Linked DNA regions of Homo sapiens. Each later gene encodes a partner of the first gene's protein in a complex. Each region holds a gene or a part of one and is shown on either strand. Other genes may lie near its edges. A codon is read from its position in the direction of its gene.

Region 1 (8,391 bases):
TGTGCCTATAATCTCAGTACTTTGGGAGGCCAAGGCTGGAGGATCACCTGAGGTCAGGAGTTCAAGACTATTTTGGGCAACATAGGGGAGACCCTGTCTGTACAAAAAATTTCAAAATGCCAGACGCGGTGGCTCACGCCTGTAATCCCAGCACTTTGGGAGGCCGAGGAGGGTGGACCACTTGAGGTCAGCAGTTTGAGACCAGCCTGGCCAACATGGTGAAACCCCATCTCTACTAAAAATACAAAAATTAACTGGTGTCATGGGGCACGCCTGTAGTCCCAGTCTCCTGCCTCAGGTGAGGCAGGAGAATTGCTTGAACCCAGGAGGCAGAGGTTGCAGTGAGCTGAGATCGTGCCACTGCACTCCAGCCTGGGTGACAGAGCGAGACTCTGTCTCAAATAAAATAAATAATAATAATAATTTTAAAATTAGCTGGCGTGGTGGTACACACTGCCCAGCTACTTGGGAGGCTGATGCAGGAGGACTGTGTTGAGTCCAGTTCAGGGCTGCAGTGGGCTATGAACATACCACTGCATTCCAGCCTGGGTGACAGAGCAAGATCCTGTCTCAAAAAAAGAAAAAAAAAAAATGCCAGGAACTGTGGATGTTTAAACATGCTTTAAACTCATTTATACCTCCTCACAATATGCCGATTGAAAGCAGACATGAAGTAAACGCAATTATTTCCAGTGGATAAGGAAGTAAAGGCTTACAGAGGTTAAAAAATTTTGCCTAGTGTCACTCAGCTGCTTGGTGGCAGAGCTGACATTCCACACATGGTCTGTGTGATTTCAGAATCTGAATTCCTAACAATTACATCTACTGTCATTAGCCGGAGGTTCTTTGGTTTATTAGGGTGACAATAATCCCAGAGTCTCTTGACCTTCAGACACCCACAGCAAACCCCAGAGCTCTCTCTGGGCTCCCACACAGACTCCCAGCCTGCTGGTCTACTCTGCCCTCATGGATCCAGTTGATCAGAGCTCTTATTTTAGCAGCTGCATGCTGATGGTGCAGTGATGACCAAACAGCGACTGATCCACCCATCACTAGACAGCTGTCATACAGAGACAACAACAAAGCAACATCTAAGTCTTTATTAAGGTGAGTTTTTACAAACAAGCATCTATCCCAGTGTGGGGGATGAGGATGGGAGAGGAAAGCGGGGCAGGAAGATGAGGATTCTCATCTATTGATAATAAAGCTCCAGGTTCATCCCATCGTGGATTTCATCTGAAGGAAAGGTGTTAAGGAATCCTGACTCTGACTTCCGTCCCCACCCCTCTCATCCATTCACAGCCGGGTCAGGTGGCCTGAGGTCTCAGCCCAGGGCTAAGGAAGCCCATTTTGGACCAGGCCATTTTTATTTGGAGAGAACCAAAACTTTACAAAAGAATTTCTGGCTGGGTGCAGTGGCTCACACCTGTAATCCCAGCACTTTGAGAGGACGAAGCAGGTGGCTCACTTGACGTCAGGAGTTTGAGACCAGCCTGGCCAACACGATGAAACCCTGTCTCTACTAAAAATACAAAAAGTTAGCTGGGTGTGGTGGTGGGCACCTGTAATCCCAGCTACTTGGAAGGCTGAGACAGGAAAATCGCTTAAACCTGGGAGGTAGAGGCTGCAGTGAGCCAAGATTGTACCACTGCACTCCAGCCTGGGCAACAAGAGCAAAACTCCATCTCAAAAAAAAAAAAAAAAGTTTCTGTTCCTTCTAGGCCAGGCACAGTGGCTCACGGCTATAATCCCAGCACTTTGGGAGGCCGAGGCGGGAGGATCACTTGAGGCCAGGAGTTTGAGACTAGCCTGGCATACATGGTGGAACCTCATCTCTACTAAAAATACAAAAACTAGCAGGGAGTGGTGGCACACACCTGTAATCCCAGCTACTTGGGAAGCTGAGGCAGAATTGCTTGAACCCGGGAGGTGGAGGTTGCAGTGGGTCAAGATCGTGCCACTGCACTCCAGCCTGGGCGACAGAGCCAGACTGTCTCAAAAAAATAAATAAATAAAATAAAAATTGTAAAAAGTTTCTGCTCCTTTTGCACAATAGATATGCCTGAGTCTCACCCCACCCTGACCTACTGTCCAGCACTCAGGTGGAGGTCAGTAATAAATATTTTGAACTTGAAGTCAAACTATTTCACCAACCACTCTCCTCCCCAACCAAATAATTACCTAGCTCCCATTTTCTAAGTGCTCACCATGTGCCACGTATTAAGTTAAACACTTAATATGCATAAGCTCATGCAGACTTTAGTTTTGAACAGATAACCGAGGCTGGGTATGTAGATGCTTCCTCAAAAAGTCACACAAAGGATACAGTCCCCCAGAGACACGTGGTCCTTAAAAATCGTGTACCTAAGAAAAAGAGACATTTCAGAGATAAGGCTAAGGAGGCTCTTCAGTCTGTAGGCCAAATGAGGTAGCCAAGCCTAAGCAAAGGGCTGCCTGCAGCGCTCCCCCAACCAAAACCTTCCGGCCTAGTCCAGTCCACCCAGTGGCTCTACCGCTGCACTCACCACTTCTTCAGGACAATCTTGTTCCAACGGGTACCAGTTTGGGCTGCAATCAGCTTCTTAAGGTCCCCGATGGTATCATCCGTGCTGGGCGCAGAGCAGTTAAGGCAAATGGAAGCGGTAGAACGAGGAAGAGGACATTCTAGGGCAGAATACCATCTGCCAGGACCCCATCCGCCCCCTCTCCCGGGTTTAACTAAAACCATCCGACAACACAGATTGAGTTGCCTGCCTCACGCCAAGCACCCCTGCGGGTACCACTGCCTCTCGGCTGCCAGTGGATACTTGCATTTAACGCGGACCTTCTTCCCCAGACGGTCGTTGCAAACAACCTCGATCATCCTAGCTGGAGCTACACAAAGCGGGGGGTGGGTGGGAGGCAGCAAAGTCAGAGCTTCAGGCGTCTCCCAGGCCCAGAAGCCCCAGCCTACAAGTCTCCCAGTCCCAGGCCCTAAAATTCCAGGTTACTGAGCCTTCCGTTCTGCCCCCAACCCCCCGGACTCGAATACTCCCAGGCCCCAAGTCCCCTGTCCCAGGGCCGCGAACCCCGGGGAGCCGCGCCTCCGCCCCTTCTCGCCGCCTGAAAGCCCTGCCACAAAACTCCCTGGCCTCACCTCCCACCGACCCCAGACCCTGGGTGGCTGGGTCGCGACAGCTTTCTCCGACTCCGAGCCTCTCCGCTTGACCCCCTCACCTCGAATCGCCTCGAACCTGCCGACGCCACCAGCTCCTCACCCGAGCGCTGAACCCCGGTCGCAGTTAACGCTAGGAACCGGAAGCGGAAGTTAAAGTTCGAGGCCGGAAGCCCTGCCCCTAGCCAGGGGGTGTGGTCAACACTGGGACAAGTTCTTCCGGGTCTGCAGTCTGTGGTGTGTTTGCTGTTCCCAGGTACGGTTTCGGTGTCCCAAGGCTTGACAGGTGTCGCGCCTGTGGTAGGCGCGCCGGGTAGAGAGGGGGGCCTCGGCGGGTTTGTGGCCAGGGAAGGGGCGTGGAGCGAGAGTCAGAGGTCAGGCGCCGGCGCCCAGCTCGTTTGAAGTCATTGTTTGTTGCAGGGAGACTCGGTCACATGGTGGGGACGCCAGAGGGTCCCGGGAGTAGGGGTAAGCTCCTGATCCTGAGCCCGAAGCCTCTTGCAGCGGCAACTAGGAGCAAGGGCGGAGGGTGGGGGTGGGGGACGAGTTCTGCAGTCATCCCTTCTGACCCCCTGGGTTCATTCAGGGCTGGGCTTGGTGAGCATTTGGCTCACCTCTTCCCTCTGGCCATCGCGTTCCCCCGGGATACGGACTCCAGTCAGTAGGCGAAGCTTGATCCTAGAGTAGACTCTACGCTGCCCAACAGCTGCTGTTACCGCATGGTGCCGGACAGTTCCAGGCTCTTGGTGTCCTGAAGAAAGATTTGGACCAGACACACAGAGATGGCAAAGCTGCAAGTTTATTAAGCACAGTATTCCACTCTCGGAGTGGGGAGAGCGGACTGACCTCTGCGAGATAAGATCAGCCCCAGCTTGGTATAGTTTGGGTCTTTTTTTTTTTTTTTTTCTGAGACGTAGTCTCGCTCTGTTGCACAGGCTGGAGTGCAATGGCGCGGTGCCGGCTCACCGCAACCTCCGCCTTCCGGGTTCAAGCGATTCTCCTGCCTCAGCCTCCCGAGTAAGTAGCTGGGATTACAGGCGCCCGCCACCACGCCCGGCTAATTTTTGTACTTTTAGTAGAGATGGGGTTTCACCTTATTGGCCAGGCTTTTTTTCTCTTCCCAAGGCTGCCTAATATCTAGCCAGTGTCTACCTTTTTGAATGATAGGTGTGTTGCTTACTTTGGCCCCTGTGTGCTTGAGAGCCGCCTCCATTCATGATATGCCGTCCATATGCATGAGCGCTAATGAGCTGGTTATCCTTATCATGTTAAGGATACTTTTTGTCTTTAATGCGCGTGCTTATGCCTAAAGAGCTGCTCCTTACTGGTTTGGTCCTGATTTCCCCGGCCGTGGGATTTTTACTGTTTTTTTTTTAATTTTATTTATTTATTTATTTATTTATTTATGGAGTCTCGCTCTGTCGCCCAGGCTGGAGTGCAGTGGCGTGATCTGGGCTCACGGCAAGCTCCGCCTCCCGGGTTCACGCCGTTGTCCTGCCTCAGCCGCCTCCCGAGTAACAGGGACTACAGGCGCCCCCCACCACCCTCGGCTAATTTTTTTGTATTTTTAGTAGAGACGGGGTTTCACTGTGTTAGCCAGGATGGTCTCGATCTCCTGACCTCGTGATCCGCCTGCCTCAGCCTCCCAAAGTGTTGGGTGTGAGCCACTGTGCCCGGCCTTTACTCAGTTTTTAATCTTCCTTTTGTTTTGTCTCCTCAGCTTCTGCCATTTATCTTGCTTCTTGCTGGGTGAGCAAGAAGGGGCGGGTGCCCTTTCACCTTGCTTCTGCTCTCTGCTTTTACGTATTTTACCCTTTATCCAACTTTTAATTCCCTTTGCTATTCTTCTGCCTCATTTTCCCTATTCTCCTTTCTCACTGCCAGTCACCAACCTTAAATGCCTGCGAGGTAACTGGAAACATTGCACATTTGCACAATCTCCTGCAGCTGTATCTTTGGGGAGCACTTTGTACCAGATTCCAGGTTTGTGAGGGCTGGTGGGACAAGGACCGTCCTTCCTCAATTCAGTCAAACAATTTGTAAACCAAAAAGTATCTGAGACAGGTCTCAATAAATTGACAGGTTTATGTAGACAAGGTTAAGGACAAGCCTGGGAGAAAAGGAACACAAAACCCCAGGAACAATCTGTGATCCGTGCTTTTTTCCAAATATGATTTTGAGGGCTTCATTATTTAAAGGGAAAAGTGGGCTGGAGGGGAAAGAGGGAGAGTATGGTCACATTATTTAATCTACATGAAGAATACTCCATTATGTATTCATTTGGTGCTCAGTAAATTGGCACTTTCCATAACATAAAGTAAGCTACCTGTGGAGATATCTGGCCTTTAAAAAAAAATTTTTTTTGAGGCTAGGCACAGTGGCTCACACCTGTAATCCCAGCGCTTTGGGAGGCTGAGGTGGGCAGATCACAAGGTCAGGAGTTCGAGACCAGCCTGGCCAACATGGTGAAACCCCGTCTCTATTAAAAAAAAAAAAAAAAAATTAGCCAGGTGTGGTGGCAGGCACCTGTAATCCCAGCTACCTGGAGGCTGAGGCAGGAGAATCGCTTGAACACGGGAGGCGGAGGTTGCAGTGAGCTGAGATCGCGCCACTGCACTCCATCCCTCCATCCTGGGCAACACAGAGTGAGGCTATCTCAATTTTTTTTTTTTTTTTTTTTGAGGCAGAGTCTCGCTCTGTTGCCCAGGCTGGAGTGCAGTGGAACAAACTCAGCTCACCACAACCTCCCGTGTTCAAGCGATTCTCCTGCCTCAGCCTCCTTAGTAGCTGGGATTACAGGCACATGCCATCACGCCCAGCTAATTTTTGTATTTTTAGTAGAGACAGGATTTCACCATGTTGTCCAGGCTGGTCTCGAACTGCTGACCTCAAGTGATCTGCCCACCTCGACCTCCCAAAGTGCTGGGATTACAGGCGTGAGGCACCGCAACCGGCCTATTTGCTTTTGAATGGCAGGATCCAGAGACTAAAACCCCCTTTTACTATCGTTGAACTATACTGCTACAGTGGTTTAAGAATTCTCCAAGGCCAGGTGCAGTGGCTCAAACCTGTAATCCCAGCAGTTTGGGAGGCCAAAGTGGGCAGATCACCTAAGGCCAGGAGTTCAAGACCTGCCTGACCAACATGGAGAAACCCCATCTCTTTAATTTTGTAAAAATACAAAATTAGCCTGGCATGGTGGCGCATGCCTGTAATCCCAGCCACTTGGGAGGCTGAGGCAGGAGAATCGCATGAACCAGGGAGGCGGAGGTTGCGGTGAGTCGAGATGGTGCCATTGCACTCCAGCCTGGGCAACAAGAGAGAAACTCCCAGGATTACAGGCATGCACCACCATGCCTAGCTAATTTTGTATTTTTGGTAGAGACGGGGTTTCTCCATGTTGGTCAGGCTGGTCTTGATCTCCCGACCTCAGGTGATCCGCCTGCCTCGGCCTCCCAAAGTGCTGGGATTACAAGTGTAAGCAACCACACCCAACCTCTCTTCTGTTTTTCTGTGCTAAGGTCTCATAATGTTTATCCCGTGTACTTTGCTTAAAAATTCCAGAAACTGGCCTTGAAAATCTAAATATAGGCCAGGTGTGGTGGCTCACACCTGTAATCCTGGCACTTTGGGAGGCCAAGGCAGGCGGATTGTGTGAGTTCAGGAGTTGGAGACCAGCCTGGGCAACACGCTGAAACCCCGTCTCTACTAAAATACAAAAAATTAGCCGGGCGTGGTGGCCTGCGCCTGTAGTCTCAGCTACTTGGGAGGCTGAGGCAGGAGAATTCTTCTCTTGAACCCAGGGGGGCAGAGGCTGCAGTGAGCCGAGGTCACGCCACTACACTCCAGCCTGGGAGACATAGTGAGACTCCGTCTCCAAAAGAAACCAAACAAAAAAAAGAAAATCTAAATATAAAACCAAGGTTGTGGAACGTCCCATCCCAGGGAAAGAATCCACAATCCTGTTTTGGTCAAGCTGACACCTGCCAGACCAGCAGGTGGCCCATTACTCAAAATAGTAATGGAAACCAGACATGCTGACTTGTGCATCTGAACTCCATGTCCTGACCCCCTAGCTGCAGCTGTGCCTCGGTAGAACACCCCTTTTCGTTCCTGTCTTGATGATTGTTGGAGCACTCTGTAAGTTTCCCTAATAAATGCTTTGGACTGATTGCTCTGGTAATTGGTGTTTTCTTGAAATCCCCACTGGCCCCATCTTGGGATGATTTAGGGCATTCCTTTGTGGGAATTCCCCTGCCTCTGCTTTTGGGGAGACTCTAGCCGGGATGAAACAGATTGGAAGGTCAAAAGTGAGCTGAGGGGGCTGAGGTGCCTAAGGAAGTTTAGAAGCAGCACATCTTTGCATTCTCTTAGAAATCCTGGGTCACAGCCAGGCACGGTGGCTCACACCTATAATCCCAACACTTTGGGAGGCCAAGGTGGGTGGATCACTTGAGGTCAGGAGTTCGAGACCAGCCTGGCCAATTGGGGAAACCCCATCTCTACTAAAAATACAAAAATGTGGCAGGCGTCTGTAATCCTAGCTACGCAGGAGGCTGAGGCAGGAGAATCGCTTGAACCCAGGAGGCAGAGGTCACAGTGAGCTGAGATATGCCACTGCACTCCAGCCTGGGCAACAGAGTGAGACTGTTTGAAAACAAAGAAATGCAGGGTCACACAAGCATTGACTGTAGTTACCACTTCATGGTAGGATTACTGAGAGTCTCATTCTCCCTTCTTTTTTTTTTTTAATTTTTTAATTTTTTAATTTTTTTTTGAGACAGTGTCTTGCTCTGTCACCCAGGCTGGAGTGCAGTGGCACAATTATAGCTCACTGCAGCCTCCAATTCCTGGACTCAAGGGGACTCACCTCCTGGGACTTCAGGCGTGCACCACCACGCCTGGCTGATTTTTTTAATTTTTGGAGAGACAGTCTCACTATGTTGCCCTGGCTGGTCTCAAACTCCTGGCCTCAAGTGATCCTCCCAAAGTGCTGGAATTACAGGCATGAGCGACCACACCCGGCCTCATTTTCCCTCTTCGTGGTGTTTTTCCAGATTTCTGACACAGAACATATGTTACTTTTGTAATCACCGGGGGTGGAAAAGGAAATGTTTGCTTTTTCAAAATGTTCTAATTTCTCAGTGCTTGATTCAAAGATCTGCCAAGCACAGGGTCTTGGTGCTGAGCTGTGGGGCGAGGAGTTGGGAAAGGGATGGGAAGTGCTGCTGAGAGAA
Region 2 (7,544 bases), on another chromosome or scaffold:
CCCTTAACTGCCTTGTCCCTCCTCCCTAGAAAACCCAATCCTCAATCCCACCATCCACTGCTTCAGGGCATTAATCCCACCATCCCCCTCCTCAGCTCCTGAATCCCACCATCCCCCTCCTCAGCAGCTCCTGAATCCCACCATCCCCCTCTTCAGCAGCTCATGAATCCCACCATCCCCCTCCTCAGCTCATGAATCCCACCATCCCCCTCCTCAGCTCATGAATCCCACCATCCCCCTCCTCAGCTCATGAATCCCACCATCCCCCTCCTCAGCAGCTCATGAATCCCACCATCCCCCTCCTCAGCAGCTCATGAATCCCACCATCCCCCTCCTCAGCAGCTCATGAATCCCACCATCCCCCTCCTCAGCTCATGAATCCCACCATCCCCCTCCTCAGCAGCTCCTGAATCCCACCATCCCCCTCCTCAGCAGCTCATGAATCCCACCATCCCCCTCCTCAGCTCATGAATCCCACCATCCCCCTCCTCAGCTCATGAATCCCACCATCCCCCTCCTCAGCAGCTCATGAATCCCACCATCCCCCTCCTCAGCTTCTGAATCCCACCATCCCCCTCCTCAGCAGCTCATGAATCCCATCCCCCTCCTCAGCAGCTCATGAATCCCACCATCCCCCTCCTCAGCTCATGAATCCCACCATCCCCCTCCTCAGCTCCTGAATCCCACCACCCCCCTCCTCAGCACCTCATGAATCCCACCATCCCCCTCCTCAGCAGCTCATGAATCCCACCATCCCCCTCCTCAGCTCATGAATCCCACCATCCCCCTCCTCAGCTCATGAATCCCACCATCCCCCTCCTCAGCTCCTGAATCCCACCATCCCCCTCCTCAGCAGCTCATGAATCCCACCATCCCCCTCCTCAGCTCATGAATCCCACCATCCCCCTCCTCAGCTCATGAATCCCACCATCCCCCTCCCTCAGCAGCTCATGAATTCCACCATCCCCCTCCTCAGCTCATGAATCCCACCATCCACACTGCCACTGGCAGGCCTGCTCTTCTCCCAGGGTGTATCTGCTCTCCACTCTCCAGAACAGCATCTCCCATCTCTTTGCACCACCACCTCTGCCACCTCTTCACTGGAAAAACACCAGAACAATCGGCCATGGGCTGCCTTGACTTCCCCTAAACAAGGTCACCCACAGCTGCTGTGCCCTCCCCACCTTCCCTCCTGAAATAAATGATGACACGAGCTGGCTTCACTCAAGCCCACCCTCCACTTGCACTCTAGGCCCCAGCACCGCCTGCCGAGATCTTTTTCTTCTTCCGTCATAAATGTGTCTCCCACATACTCTAGAATCTCCGGTAGTCAGAAAAGGCTCCTTTGCGGGTGGGAAACTTGATTGGATGCTGCTTACAACAAAAAACTAAAAAGACATTTTGGGGGATAACTGGAAAATGTTGGCATGCGAGCTGCTGTTTTACAGCATTTATGGGCTTGTTAGGGCAGTGTGGCTATGCGGGAGAAGGCCCTGATTTCGCCAGATGCCTACTGAAGTCGTTAAGGATGCAGTGTCATGATATCTGCAACTCCCAGTGGTCAGGAAAAAAAGAAGAGAAAGAAAAGAACTGTAACAATGTTTATAATTACTGACTCTAGAGGACAAAGGTGTTCACTGTGATAGGCTTTCCACTTTTTTGCCTGCACAGTGTGTGGGGTGTGGCTCATATGTTTAAAAAACCTTCTAGGTGGCCGGGTGTGGTGGTTCATGCCTCTAATTCCAGCACTTTGGGAGGCTGAGGAGGGTGGATCACAAGGTGAGGAGTTTGAGACCAGCCTGACCAACACGGTGAAACCCTGTTTCTTCTAAAAAATACAAAAATCAGCTGGGCGTGGTGGCATGCACCTGTAGTTCCAGCTACTCAGGAGGCTGAGGCAGGAGAATTGCTTGAGCCCGGGACATGGAGGTTGCAGTGAGCCGAGATCGCGCCACTGCACTCCAGCCTGGTGACAGAGCGAGACTCCGTCTCAAACAACAACAAAAACTTTCTAGGCTACACCAGGCCTGGTGGCTCATGCCTGTAACCCCAGCACTTTGGGAGGTGGAGGCGAGAGGATCGTTTGAGCTCAGGAATTTGAGACCAGCCCGGGCAACACACTGAGACCCACAGGCGCACGCCTGTAGTCTCAGCTACTTGAGAGCCTGAGGCAGGAGGATCCCTTGAGCCCAGGAGTTCAAGGCTGCAGTGAACTATGATTGCACTACTGCACTCCAGCCTGGGCAACCGAGCGAGACCTTGTTTCTTAAAACAACAACAAAAACAACCTCCTAGGTGAGTCTAATGTGCAGGCAGGCTGAGATCCACGGGGCTAGAAACCCTTATGTTCATTTCAGTCATAAAACAGCCCTGTCAGCCTATTGCTCCATTTCTCTGTTCCTTTTTAGCCGGGCAAACTATGTCCCAACACCTGTTCTTAGAAATAAAGTATTACTGGAACCCAGCCACGCCCACTCACTTACAGACTGTCTTGGCTGTTTTCCCTATAACAGCACAGCATTCAAGGTGCCTAACAGAGACCATATGCCCTTAAACCTCAAATACGTCCTCTCCAGCCCTTCAACAGTAAGCCTGGCCTCCGTCCCGGGTTCAGCCCTCACTTTTTCAACTCCCCTGTCCTCCGGGTCCTGAATCCACTGCAACTGTCCCCACTTTGCCTCCCAGTAGTATCAGAAGCTTCCCTCCCTTGCTCCCTCTCCTGGACACGCTTTCTTGGCTTCTTCCTAGGTGAGAAGTGTGGGGTAGGGCTAAAAGTGTGGCCTCTGGAATGATGGAGATGACAGAACCTTCCTCATAGGGTGTTGCTGGGAGGATGGAATGAATCAACAAACACAGAACATGTGAGCAGTGCCCGGCCCACTGTGCCTCTGGGGCAGCGACGACCATGGGGTCAAGGCTCCCCCTGCGTTGGCCCCCTACCTCTCCATCTCAGCTCACGCCACCCCTCACTCTCTGCTCTGCTCCAGCCTCCCTGGCCCTCAGGCACTCTAAGGTCACTTCTCCTGAGACACCTGCTGGTTGGTCTACTGCCTAAATGCCAGCCTGTCCACCTGCTGCCACCCCTAACCCCCCGCAAGGCTGGCTCCTCTGTGTGACTCAAGTCTCAGATGAACTAGTACCTTGGAAAGGTCTTCCCTGCACTCTCCCATCTAAGATCCCAACCCCCGGCACGTTATCTTGGTTTACTGAGTGCCCAGCTCCCACCACCATCAGAAATTACCGTTCCTGCATTAACAGTCACTGCTGCTCCCCACGCTCTCCCCCACACACTCTAGAAAGCCAGCTCCATGAGCCCAGGGCCCCATGGCTATCCTGTTCACCAATGACCTTCTCAGCCCAAGAACAATGCACTACTCACAGCAGGCATTCAACAAACATGCACAGAAGAGAGAGGCAAGGAAAGGATCCCCTACTAAAGCAGGCATCTAAAAATTTTTGCAAAACATGACTTTAAACAGAATAGAGGGCTGGGCACGGTGGCACACACCTGTAATTTTAGCATTTTCGGAGGCAGAGGCAGGCAGATCATGAGGTCAGGAGTTGGAGACCAGCCTGGCCAACATAGTGAAACCCCGTCTCTACTAAAAATATAAAAATTAGCCGGGTCTGGTGGCGTGCGCCTGTAATCCCAGCTACTCAGGAGGCTGAGGAATAAGAATCACTTGAGCCTGGGAGGCGGAGGTTGCAGTGAGCTGAGGCTGCGCCACTGCATTCCAGCCTGGGCGAAAGAGCGAAACTCTGTCTCAAAAAAAAAAAAAAAAAACAAACCCAGAAAACAAAAAACAAATGGAAAAGAGGCTTCAGACAGGAATGTGGCTGTCGCCTATGACACAGGTGCTCGTGAGGACAGGTGACTGCTGACGCAGTCACCCTGCCCATGCCCAGCCTCACCTTCTCGCCACTGTCTCGCAGCTGCTGTAGCTGCTGTAACTGTCGCAGCCGGCGTCCCTTCTCCAGCTGCTTCTGCAGCTCCAGCTCCGCCTCGTCCTCCTCCAGCACCTGCGGGGACCCCGGCGGTGGAGCTCCACCTTCCTCTGGGGGAAACACAGGGGATGCCTGCTCAGACCATCTCCTCCAACCCGCGGCTCCTGTCCCTGCCCCTCCCACCCCCTGGCCGGGCCCTCACCCTCATCACTGATGTCCATGTTCTCCACTCGGGTGTCGTCCGACGGCAGGGGCTGAGGCACAGGCTCCTTCTCCTCCTCCACTTCGGACACTCGGCGGCGACCCCGTCCCCGCAGTCTGAGGGAAGGAGGCCTCTCTGGTGAGCACCGGTCCCCAGGCCACCCCAGCCCAGCCATCTCGCCCCACCACCGTGTCCAAGCCCACCTGGAACCAAAGTCCCCATCCTGAGTCTGGTCCCCGAGAGGCAGCAAGTCATCTGCCCGCACTACTACCTCCTTCTCCTTCTTGCGGATTTTCTTCACCCTCCGCTTGGTCTTTTTAAAGGTCACCTTAAGGGAAGAGGGGCGAGACATGGAGCGGGGGCCACAGAAAGGCAGGTCGCCACAAGCCCTCGAGGGTGAACACTTCTTTGGTGTTCCTCTGTGCTAGCCAGCGTCCTGAGCGCTTCCCACACATGAGCAACATGTGGGGTGGTTACTATCTCAATTCCACTGGTGAGCTAGGGAAACTGGGGCACAGGGAGGTTAAGTACCTTCCCCAAGGTTGCCCAGCTCCTAGGTGGGAGAGCTGGGCAGTCTGGCTCCAGAGTCCTGCTCTTACCCACTGAGGAAGACGCCTACCGCGCCAGCTGTCTACCTCACGTTCACACAGTCACCCTGTGGACAGAATCCACGCACACCTCTCCAGTCACCCCTCACCCACGCTGTCACTCATCCTCACAGCAACCTCAGGAGGCGGCTCCTGTCACTGCCATTCCAGATGGGGTGCCCCAGGCTCACAGTTAAATGGTTTATCCAAGGCACGAGCTGGCAGCATGGCAGAGCCGAAACAGACTGGGGCCCATCTGGCTCAGCAGCCCTGACCCATCCACACCTGGTGCCTCCCCCGGTTGCCATTTAGTGCTCACCCGCGAGGCCAAGCGCTTTGTGAACACAAATACTCGCCCTGTCTTCTCAGTGCCTGCGGGCAGGGCAGGAGCCCCAGAGGGAGGGAGAATCTTGACCCCGAGTATAAGGCACGGGAGGGCTCACCATCTCCTCAGGCGTGAGGTATTCGGAGGCCAGCCGGGGCCCCACTGTGCTCAGGGACTGAGCCTGCAGCCGCAGCTTGGCCCGGATCTCCTCCAGCTCCCGCTCCCGCAGGCCATCAGCCGTGCCGCCCTGCTCCAAGCGGAAGGAATGTGGCCGCTCCCCTTCAAGCTCTTCGTCATACTTGGACAGGATAGAGCGAGGTTTTTGCTGCAAGGCAAGAGGTACAGGTTGGGACCCAGGCTGGCTCCTGAAAAGCCACTGAGCCACCACCTCCTCAGAGCCCCCATTCCCGACATTCTCCACCTCAGCCCCCGCCACCCAGCCTGCCCAGGCCGTGCCTGCGCCAGGTCGTCCACGCTCTCGTCCTCGGCATAGGGCAGGTAGTCAGGCTTCTTCTTCCGCAGCTCCACATTTTTCTCTGCCCGCTCCTTATCCACCAGGTTCACGTTCACCAGCACGTCCTCCTCCTCCTGCAGCACGCCTGGGGGCAGCACAGAGCAGTGGCCATTCACACTTGTCCGCAACTCAGCAGAGGCTGTGCCCCCACCCAGGGCACCCAGCTCGCATTACCTTTGTCCTTGAGGGTAAGAATCATTGTCTCCCCTTCTCGGAAGGAATCAATGGCATGCTCCACGGTGAGGCCCTGCAGGTCCCGGGCACTGTACAGGTCCTAAGGGAAGAATCGGCGAGTCAGGAACCTCCCTCCACGCACCCAACCTCGGGATTCCGGTAGCAAGGCCACCAGTGTCCCCTGTACCACCCCTGCTGCAGCCTCACCTGCCGCCTCTGCCCGAACTCCTCCTCCACCAGAGTGCTGACACCAAACTCTTGGTCCATCTCCTCCAGTAACTTGGCCTACGGGACAGGGAGGGGTGACCTAGGACTTCAGGCCACTCAGCATCACCAGAAAACACTCAGGGCTCTACCAAGCGGAGTGCAAAAAGGGCAGGCCTTGCAGGAAAGCTGCTGAGAATCCAAAGTAGATGCTACCGACCACGGCCCTTCCCTTCTCCAAGCCCCGTCTCACCTCTCTGGGGTTGGCCCCCGCCTCAGTGCCGTCAGGCCACCAGAAGCACTAGGCGACCACCCCATGCTGCCCAGGTGCTCACCCTCTTCTCTGCCAGGTCCTTCTCCTTCTGCAGCTGCCGGCTCCTCTCGATCCAGGCTGCAGTGTCGTCCAGCCAGGGGTCATCCTCTCCTAGGGTCTTTATCTTCCTGAAGAGGGGAAAAAGTGATGCTCAAGGAGCCCAGCTCCTGCTCCCCACCCCACTCAAGAGGCAGCCAAGGATGGTGGCCTCCCCAGCCCTTCCCTTGCCTGCCCTGGCCAGGACCCCTCACCCCAGCTTTTGGTTCAGCAGGCGCTTCTCCTTGGCAGCCGCCAGCTTCTCCCGCAGCTCCTCTCGCTGTCGCAAGGCCATAGGGTTGATGACATCAGCTGTCACGGGCTCCTCCTTGGTGCCCGCCTCTGGAAGGGGGGCCCAGACGTGAGGCTATGCCCGCCCATGGCTGGTGGGGAGAGGAGGGAGCCACTCACCCTGCCCCCTTCCAGCTCAGGGGGCCAGAAGGGGTCAGGACAGGAAGGAACAATCCTTCACCTCCCTGCTCCCACTTCGTCCCCACACTCCTGGCCAACCCATGCAGCACAACAGGACCCTCTGTGGCTTCCAAAGCCCCTCAAATCGTGCTTTAAAGAAAAACAAGAAACCCACCCCCGCACAGCGCAGTCTGCAGCAAGTGTGCACATCTTCCAGTCCATCTAACAACTCACAGCCAGAGTGAGTATGCGACGGCCACAGCTCCAACTCAGAGAGCAGGCGGAGCCCCAGATCCCCATTATACCAGCAAGGAGGGACCTCATGCCTTCCGGCAAATATGCATGTGTAAGACCACTAAACAGTGCTGAACCTGCCCTCTAACCCCACCTTCTTCAAAGACCCCTTCAGATGGCCTCTTTCCCCCAAACCCTATCCTCAGCCCCATACTCACCCTTCTTGATGGCATTAACCTCCAAGGGTTTCAGCCCCAACTTTGCCCGGAGTTTGCTGACAACAAGAGATACAAGTGTTAGGGGCTATTAAAGACACAGGGTGCCATGTGCATTTCCAGACAGACAAGAGGAGAAACAGGGTGGGAGTGAGTGGTCCCAAACACAAAGTCTGCCCCAGGCAGCCTAGGACACTGGGAAGGGCCCTGGCCTCCAAAGCAGGAAACATGGGCACCAGCCTGGTCTGCGTCTAACCAGTGAATGCCACTTTACTCTTAGGTTTTAGTTTTCTCTTCTATAAGTCAACTGTTGGCTAAGATGATTTAAACAATCTTTCCAACTCTGATTAGCACACTTTCATGTGAGAAAGCCTCCCCCGTGCT

Evidence for each region. Proteins that work in one complex are often made in the same cells at the same time.
Region 2: the proteins of UBL5 (region 1) and SART1 are in contact, whole or in part, in a crystal structure (PDB 4PYU), measured with the Homo sapiens proteins. Residues at the interface, in NP_001041706.1 of Homo sapiens: Met1 (codon at 2,863), Glu3 (codon at 2,857), Arg15 (codon at 2,821), Lys17 (codon at 2,815), Cys18 (codon at 2,812), Asn19 (codon at 2,809), Asp21 (codon at 2,605), Asp22 (codon at 2,602), Asp26 (codon at 2,590), Lys29 (codon at 2,581), Leu30 (codon at 2,578), Ala33 (codon at 2,569), Gln34 (codon at 2,566); in NP_005137.1 of Homo sapiens: Ser117, Leu118, Ser119, Ile120, Thr123, Leu126, Arg127, Leu130, Leu132, Lys133, Leu135.

The regions. Positions count from the first base shown.
Region 1 is NC_000019.10:9,822,810-9,831,200, reverse strand, and holds UBL5 (ubiquitin-like protein 5), read right to left. Parts: upstream 3,284-8,391; 5' UTR 3,217-3,283; exon of another isoform or gene 3,137-3,216; intron 2,875-3,136; 5' UTR 2,864-2,874; coding exon 2,808-2,863; intron 2,610-2,807; coding exon 2,526-2,609; intron 2,365-2,525; coding exon 2,327-2,364; intron 1,237-2,326; coding exon 1,193-1,236; 3' UTR 1,086-1,192; downstream 1-1,085. UniProt on the Homo sapiens protein: Ubiquitin-like protein that plays a role in cell proliferation and sister chromatid cohesion by associating with spliceosomal proteins. Participates thereby in pre-mRNA splicing by maintaining spliceosome integrity.
Region 2 is NC_000011.10:65,964,190-65,971,733, reverse strand, and holds part of SART1 (U4/U6.U5 tri-snRNP-associated protein 1), read right to left. Parts: intron 7,220-7,544; coding exon 7,164-7,219; intron 6,643-7,163; coding exon 6,516-6,642; intron 6,393-6,515; coding exon 6,287-6,392; intron 6,033-6,286; coding exon 5,955-6,032; intron 5,848-5,954; coding exon 5,748-5,847; intron 5,659-5,747; coding exon 5,516-5,658; intron 5,385-5,515; coding exon 5,178-5,384; intron 4,476-5,177; coding exon 4,351-4,475; intron 4,264-4,350; coding exon 4,148-4,263; intron 4,056-4,147; coding exon 3,913-4,055; intron 1-3,912. UniProt on the Homo sapiens protein: Plays a role in mRNA splicing as a component of the U4/U6-U5 tri-snRNP, one of the building blocks of the spliceosome. May also bind to DNA.